Regions from separate parts of the Homo sapiens genome. Here region 1 is linked to region 2. Evidence: fine-mapped QTL for protein levels in blood plasma. Region 2 holds a variant in brackets. A gene starts in the other region. All regions are shown on their reverse strands. Region 1 holds the start of CLEC4G (C-type lectin domain family 4 member G). Region 2 overlaps ARSG (arylsulfatase G).

What was found. A credible set is the group of variants that fine-mapping cannot tell apart. PIP is the posterior inclusion probability: the model's chance that the variant is causal. The UK Biobank Pharma Proteomics Project read protein levels with antibody pairs (Olink). The fine-mapping took linkage between variants from a reference panel, not from the people measured, so its PIPs are less certain.
Region 1: it holds the start of CLEC4G, and the variant in region 2 is the best candidate, but not a certain one, in a credible set for the plasma level of the CLEC4G protein (UK Biobank, PIP 0.50).

Annotation. Positions count from the first base shown.
Region 1 is chr19:7,731,044-7,733,644 of GRCh38, reverse strand. CLEC4G (C-type lectin domain family 4 member G) reads left to right here and starts at 1,535. Exons shown (of 9, transcript NM_198492.4): 1 at 1,535-1,597; 2 at 1,874-1,984; 3 at 2,326-2,379; 4 at 2,557-2,601. The coding sequence starts at 1,543. RefSeq lists a cis regulatory region at 1,461-1,470 and promoters at 1,277-1,540, 1,228-1,540, 934-1,540.
Region 2 is chr17:68,321,383-68,326,907 of GRCh38, reverse strand. All of the region lies in intron 2 of ARSG (arylsulfatase G), which reads right to left. Among named protein-coding and RNA genes, the nearest start is that of ARSG, 33 kb to the right of the region's middle. The variant C/T (reference allele first, on the strand shown) is at 2,604.

The DNA of each region.
Region 1 (2,601 bases), not on the chromosome of region 2:
TGTTTACATATCTACAAGAGGGGCTGGAACATTCTATTAAGTGCTCAACATTTCACCTTGTCAGTGAGGCTGGCCCTGGCCACCCTAGCCACTGCCCACTGCCTAGTGCCCATCCCAGTCCTGCCAAGTACTTATCCTACTGGATTTTTTCTTCCCTTAATGTTTTTTCATAGCATTTATGACTTTTGAATAGAGTATACTACGGTTCCCACCTTTTGCACTATGGACATTAGGAGTCAGATCATTCTTTGCTATGGGGGATGTCTTAGGCATTGTAGGGCTTTGCGCAGCATCCCTGGCCTCTACCCACTAGATGCCTGGAGCACACACACACACACACACACACACACACACACATTCTGTGACAACCAAAAGTGTCTCCAGACATAGCCAAATGTCCCCTGGTGGGCGTAATTGCCCCCAGCTGGGAACTACTATGCTATACAACTTATGTTTTCAATTATGTTTATTACGTTGAGTATGGAGTCTGTCTCCCCACACTTCTAGAATATTAGCTCCAAGAAGAGAGGAATTTGCTTATTTTACTCTCTGATGTGGCCCCAGTTCCAAGATCAATGCCTGGCATATGGCAGGTGCTCAATGTTTGTTGAAAGAATGCATGAACACTGAGTGTTTTTGATATGCCTGAAATGGTGCTAGGTAGACATGTATAACCTCATTGTCTTTATTTTTTTATTTTTTCAATTTTTGTTTTCATATATATATATATATATATATTTTTTTTTTTTTTTCAGAAATGAGGGTCTTGTTATATTGCCCAGGCTGGTCTGGTCTGGAACTCCTGGGCTCAGTGATCCTTCCATGTCGGCCTCCCAAAGTGCTGGGATTACAGGTGTGAGCCAGCAAGACTGTCTTGTTTCTTTATCATAGCATCTTTGTGAGAGAGGCCCATCGCTATCTCCTTTACAGTGGGGAAAACTAAGGCTTCTAGAAGCTACCTAGAACCCATACAGTGGTAGAGTCCTGCAGCTCCGCCGGCTACCTCCCTAACAAAACTGTTTGTTCCCTTCTGGTACAGAGGGACTGGATCAAGGTCAGGTTCAAACCCAGCCTCTGCAGGCACCTGCAGGGGAGTTGAGAAGGGACCTGAACTGGCCTGGGGGGCTATGCCTGAGGGGGCTTTCTCAGGAGCCAGCAGGGGTTACAATTTGGTCGGGTTCAGTGTGTCCCTCGCGGGATAAAACCCAGCCCCAGGCCCATAAGAGATGGTGACTAAGCTCCAAAGAGAAGCCTCCAGCCCCAGGCCCATAAGAGATGGTGACTAAGCTCCAAAGAGAAGCCTCCAGCACCAGCCTGGGGATGGAGCTGCAGTGGCCAGAACCAGGAGGCTGGAACCGCCCGGCCTCACTCCAGCCCAGCCCAGCCCAGCCTTGAAAGGGCCCAATCCTGTGATTGGTCCATGGGTTCCCGTTGCCAGGAATTAAGGCCAAGAAAATGGGAAGGAAGGAAGGGAGTGCGTAGGTCCAGTGAGAACAGGCGTGAAATTTATATCTCTGCCCAGGACTGGGTGCCTGCATCGCCATGGACACCACCAGGTACAGCAAGTGGGGCGGCAGCTCCGAGGAGGTCCCCGGAGGTATGAGCAAGGAGACTGCCCCATCCCTGCCCCAGTGTCTGGGGTTTGATGGGGGAGGGGAGGGAAGAGTCGAGACAGGCCAGGGTTGTGGGTGCAGGAGAGACACCACAGGCCATAGAGCCAGTTGGACCAGGGTCCAATTCCAACTCTGCCGCTTAGAAGCTGTGTGACCATAGGCAAGTTACTTAACTTCTCTGAATCTCAGTTTCCTGGGAGTAACTCAGGCCTCCAGGGCTCAGTTCTGGGGGACCCAGCATGCCGTCCTTGTTATGCCAGGGCCCTGGGGACGCTGGGTGCACTGGAGCAGGAGACCCCTCTTCTTGGCCCTGGCTGTCCTGGTCACCACAGTCCTTTGGGCTGTGATTCTGAGTATCCTATTGTCCAAGGGTGAGTGACTCTCAATGGGGAGGTGTTGCATCCGGCCCCCCTGGGGACAGAAAACCCCCACTGCATGGCGCACCAGCTGCATCCTGGGGTCCTGTTCGCGTCTGAGTGTGAGCAGAGTGTGTGTACATCTTTGGGCCGTGTGCACTCACGCGTGTGCACATGGCGTGCTCGTATGTGCGCGAGTCCCCGCGCGTTTGTCTCCCATCGGCGTGTGTGCACATCGTGTGAGCTGTATGCCTGCCCGCCCGCTCCGTGCTCCCGAGTTGGGGGACGCTGCACCCCCCGGGCGAGGGGAGGATTCCCGAGTTCCCGGCCTCGCCTGCAGGAGCCTCTCTCCTCAGCCTCCACGGAGCGCGCGGCGCTGCTTGACGGCCACGACCTGCTGAGGACAAACGGTGTGTGCAGAGCCGGGCGCCTGGGCCCCCGGGGCGTGAGGGGCGGGAGTTTCTGAGACCCCGGAGATGGAGTCTCGAGTGCGTGGGGGCCCTATGGTCCCTGAGGCTGGAAGGGGGTCCCCTGAGTCCTCCCAAGTGACCCGAGGGGCATGCATTTTGGGGCGGGGGTCGTTCCAGCCTCGAAGCAGACGGCGGCGCTGGGTGCCCTGAAGGAGGAGGTCG
Region 2 (5,525 bases):
ACTCCTTCCACATGACTCATGGGGCTGCTGACGACTGTTGCTTGATGCACAACCACCCACCCCAACCCACCACAAGAAGTATTAGTTTCCAGGTGTGACACAACACGGGAAAGGTGGGAACTTGCCACCTCAGTGATCTGGACCCCGTTTGGCATCAACTCCCCTCCTCCCCAAGCTCTCTCCCCTCCAGCCAGACAAGGTGAGTTGCTTTTACTTTCTGCTTTTTTTGTTTGTTTGTTTTTTAGACGGAGTTTCGCTCTTGTCACCCAGGCTGGAGTGCAATGGCACGATCTCGGCTGACCACAACCTCCGCCTCCCAGGTTCAAGAGATTCTTCTGCCTCAGCCTCCCAAGTAGCTGGGACTATAGGCATGGGCCACCACGCCTGGCTAATTTTTGTATTTAGAGTAGAGACGGAGTTTCACCATCTTGGCCAGGCTGGTCTCAAACTCCTGACCTCAAGATCCATCCACCTGGGCCTCCAAAAGTGCTGGAATTACAGGTGTGAGCCACCGCGCCAGGCTGAGTTGTTTTTTCTAGAACACTTCCAGCTGGCTCTGGCCTCAGGCCCTTTTTGTGTTCCCTCTGTCCTGATCACTCTGCTCTGGTCTCCACAGGGCTGGCCCCTCCTGGTCAGCTGGGCTTCAGCTCTCATTTCGCCTCCTGGGGAGATCTCCCTGACCCGGCTACACCTGCAGCAGCACTGTTCGAGTTTGTCCCTAACCCTTATCATATCTGACTTTATCTTGTTCAGGGATTTGTCTTCTTGCTGCTGCTGGCTCCCTTATCTAGGTTAGAGTTCCACAAGAGCAGAGGTATGTCTGCCTAGTCTTGTCACTGCCCTAGGGTATAATTCCAGACCTCAGGAACGCTGTTTCTCCACCAACAGCAGCTCGGGTCCTGCACTCTACCTGGTGAGACCTAATGATAGTTTCCCATGTAATGTCCCACCTGGATACTAATGCAGTGTGGGACTCCACTGCATGCTAATCAAACTAGCACAAGCTTCTGTCCTTGGTGAACTGGCCCATGACCCATGAGCCAAGCAGGGCTATTGTGAATTTAAACTTGGAATTTTCTGAACCAGAGAATGAGAAATAGCTCTTTTCTCCCCCTCTGGAATATCAAGCTATAAGCAGGCAACCCCAGAAGGGTAAGGGCTTCCTTGACTATCACATGGAGGAACTTGAAAGAATGGGCCAACTGGCTCAGAAGCACAGAGGAAAAAATGGAGGCTCTCAGGGGCTTAGTTCAAGAGCCCCACCTGTGCCTCTTTTGTGTTTAGGTTGATTGAGTTGGGTTTCCGTCACTTACAACCAGAGAGTCCTGGCTATTATACTGTAGGTCAGCTATCCCCCACCTTCCTGGTACCAGGGACCAGTTTCATGGAAGACAGTTTTTCCACAGACAGGGGTTGGGAGGGATGGTTTCGAGATGATTCAAATGCATTACATTTATTGTGCACTTTATTTCTATTATTATTATATTGTAATATATAATGAAATAATTACACAACTCACCATAATGTAGAACAAGTGGGAGCCCTGAGCTTGTTTTCCTGCAACTAGATGGTCCCATCTGGGGGTGATGGGAGCCACTGACAGATCATCAGGCATTAGATTCTTATAAGGAACATGCAACCTAGATCCCTCACATGGGCAGTTCACAATAGGGCTCGCACTCCTGTGAGAATCTAATGCCGCTGTTGATCTGACAGGAGGCGGAGCTCAGGCGGTAATGCAAGCGATGAGGAGTGGCTGTAAATACAGATGAAGCTTCACTCACATGCCGCTCACCTCCTGCTGTAGGGCCCAGCTCCTAACAAGTCATGGACTGGTACAGTGGCCTGGGGGTTGAGAACCCCTGCTGTAGGTGATCCAGGATATATCAATGAACAAGACAAATCCCTGCCCTCAAGCTGCTCACTGGTCAGTGAGGGAGGTGGATAATTTCATTATGTAAGAGGATTTGGGAAACATGAAGCACAGGATGTTCTCAAAGGGCACCAAGTGTGTATACCTGTGTGTTGGGAAAGCATTTCCCAAAAGAAGTTAAGTGTAAGCTGAGACCTAAGGTATAAATAGGCATTAGCGTTGTCTTATAGTAACAAAAATATCTAACACGTACCAAGTGGCTACTACTCTACTCATGTTACACATATTTCTAACTTTTAAAACACTCTGTAAAACAGGCATCCAAATTCCCATTCTACAGAGAAGGAAGCTGAGGCAGAGAGAGTTTAAATAGCTTTCCAAGACTACATAGCTGGTATGAGCTCAGTGCATCTTATGCCAAGGCCTGTCTCATCACGGTGCCATATTGAAGACTGCAGACCCCTACAGGGAGGAAATGGCAAAGCCAGAATTTGAACCCAGGCCTTTCCAACCCAAATTCCTATGCCCTTTCCACTACAGCCACGCGAGGGAAGGTTGTCTGGAGCTGGGCCGGTCCGCAGGAGGTATCGTATTAACTAGGTCATCGTGTTACAGGAGCCAGTCTTTGGCTGGGAAGGTCCTGAGAGTCATGCTTGGTGGTGCCAGCCCCGAGAGCCTGACTCACATCCACACAAACCATGTGAGCCCAAGAAAGAGGCAGGAATGCCCA[C/T]GACCCATCTGACTTCCAAGGATGGGTACAGGAACCAGAATGTCAGCGTGGTCAACATGTTTTCTTCCTGTGCACAAGCTACACAGGAAATCAGAATCTGAAGTTTGCCTTAGTGAGTGTGGACTTCGTTAATGCTAAGAGAATTCAAATGGAGCATCAAAAAAGTCCTTTACTTTGTGAAGCTTGAGGGCCTTTTCTCTACTGTAGATTAACTTTTTTTTTTTTTTTTTTTTTGATGGAGTTTTGCTCTGTTAACCAGGCTGGAGTGCAGTGGCATGATCTCAGCTCACTGCAACCTCCACTTCCCAGTTTCAAGCAATTCTCCTGCCTCAGCCTCCCAAATAGCTGGGATTACAGGCACCCGCCACCACACCTGGCTAATTTTTGTATTTTTACTAGAGATGGGGTTTCGCCATGTTGGCCAGGCTGGTCTCGAACTCCTGACCTCAGGTGATCCACCCGCTTCGGCCTCCCAAAGTGTTGGGATTACAGGCATGAGCTACAGCACCCAGCCTGTGGATTGATCTTTGACAGTGGGTCTGGGATACTCAAAGGCTGTTGAGCCACCATTTCCTCTTGCCTGGTTCCATGGACTGAATGTTTGTGTCCCTCCGAAATTCATATGTGGAAACCCGAATCCCCAGTGTGTCCATATGTGGACATGGGCCCTTTAGGTGGTAATTAGATTTAGATAAGGTTATGAGGGTTCCATCAGCTTCCATGATGAGATAAGTGCATTTGTGAAAAGAGGACTTGGCTGGGAGTGGTGCCTCATACCTATAATCCCAGCATTTTGGGAAGGTGAAGTGGAAGGACTGCTTGAGCCCAGGAGTTCAAAATCAGCCTCGGCAACATAGCAAGAGCCCATCTTTACAATAATAATGATTAATTAATTAATAAGAGGGTTCTTTCTCTCTCTCTCATTAAGTATGTCTATGGCTTTGGGGTAAAGTCAAGTTAATTTGAGTCCTTTTCCTAGTTTTCATTGACTTCTCAGACCTAGAATTTATAAATTAGAGTCTGCAGTGACTCAAACTATCTGAACTTCATTTTACTCATATGTAAGTGAGGATAATAATGCTAATCTTATAAAATCCCTGCAAGGATCAAATGAGAGAATTTATAAGTCACACTGATAGGATATGGCACCAACTAGATGTTAATTCGAAATCTGTTCACTCCAAAAAAAAAATAACCAGTTCTCCTCCCAGACCCTCCATGTCTTCCAATAATTAGGATGATAACATCAGAGAGAGAGAGAGAGAGAGCCCTCTCTTATTAATTTATTATTATTGTAGAGATGGGGTCTTGCTATGTTGACCAGGCTGGTCTTGAACTGTATTCTCCTTGTGAGAATACAGCAAGAAGGGGGCCGTCTGCAAGCCAGGAAAGAGCCCTCACCAAAACCTGACCATGCTAGTACCCTGATGTTGGACTTTAGCCTCCAGAACTGTGAGAAATAAACATTTATTGTTTAAGCCATACAGTCTGTTGTATTTGTTACAGCAACCCAAGCTGACTAATATGGCTGGTCAGTGCCAAAAACACACTGCCTGAATGTTATCCCTGCTTGCCCAATTTTAACAGTGGCCCTAAATGTAATCTCCCCGTGGGCTTGTTAACGTCCTCATCTTGGGAACAGCTATCTTAATTTCTTTTTTTTTTAATTTTTTTTTATTTTATTTTTTTGAGACGGAGTCTCACTCTATCGCCAGGCTGGAGTGCAGTGGCACAATCTTGGCGCACTGCAACCTCCGCCTCCCAGGTTCAAGCAATTCTCCTGCCTCAGCCTCCTGAGTAGCTGGGACTACAGGCACGCAACACCATGCCCAGCTAATTTTTGTATTTTTAGTAGAGATGGGGTTGGCCAGGATGGTCTCGATCTCTTGACCTTGTGATCCGCCTGCCTCAGCCTCCCAGAGTGCTGGGATTATAGGCATGAGCCACCGCGCCCGGCCAGCTATCGTACATTTCTACAGCGGGATGCAGTTTTGAGTTCCTTTGCCGGGTGTAGGTTTCATGAGATGGGGCTTAGAGTTGCAACTCCAGCCCCAAGCACAGCACCTTGGTGGGGCAGGGCTGCCCCAGCAATATCTGGTGAACAAACAAAACTTAGAGAAACTCAGGTGGTTTGATTGGAAAAAACATGTCAGTTCATTCTTCATGTAATCACTTAAGCGGATGCTTTCAGGGCTCAATTCCTTCCCCACAGTGTGTTAAAGTTCATAGCTTAACTCTCAGAAACAATCTCGTTTCCTTTATTTGCAATTCTTTGGAGACGCTGTACCCACCCCCAAAAATGCAGCTTTATGAACTGGCCTGCACGTCACCTTTTTTCCCCCTCCTGGCCACTGTCTCCATTTAGTTGGACTAATTAATAAGCAATAAAATGACCTTGTTATTTGGAAAGCTTTCTTTCCTCCCAAGTCTATCTGGGCAGGCTCAGGCCAGTTCATCATCAGGGGTCCTAATTAAAGTCTGAAAATACATTGTAAAGCAAAGCTGGAAATACAGAGCCAGACATTACAGCAGCCTGTTAACAAGAAAATCAACGCAAATTAAGACACAGCCAGACAGAAACCAAAGCAACTTGCCATTGCATAAATTATGTGTATTAGAATCAGGGAAGGCTAGCACTGGAAAGGCTGCCACAAAAGCCCCGGAGAGACATAACGTTGCAAAGTTAAGCGTGTCCAGCCTTCATTTACAAGGAATTTAAAATAGATGATGGGGTGTTCTGTGGCAACTCTGACTGGAATAAAAACTGTCCTTGTTCCATTCATAATTTAAAGGCATGGACGTGAAAATAGGTTTTTAAAATCTTTTGCTGCGGCCTTTGTGTGTAAAGGGACAGGGTTGGGAGATGGGAACTGGAAAGTAGCTGAAATAAAACTCAGAGAACCAGCTCAGCCCAGCCTCCAC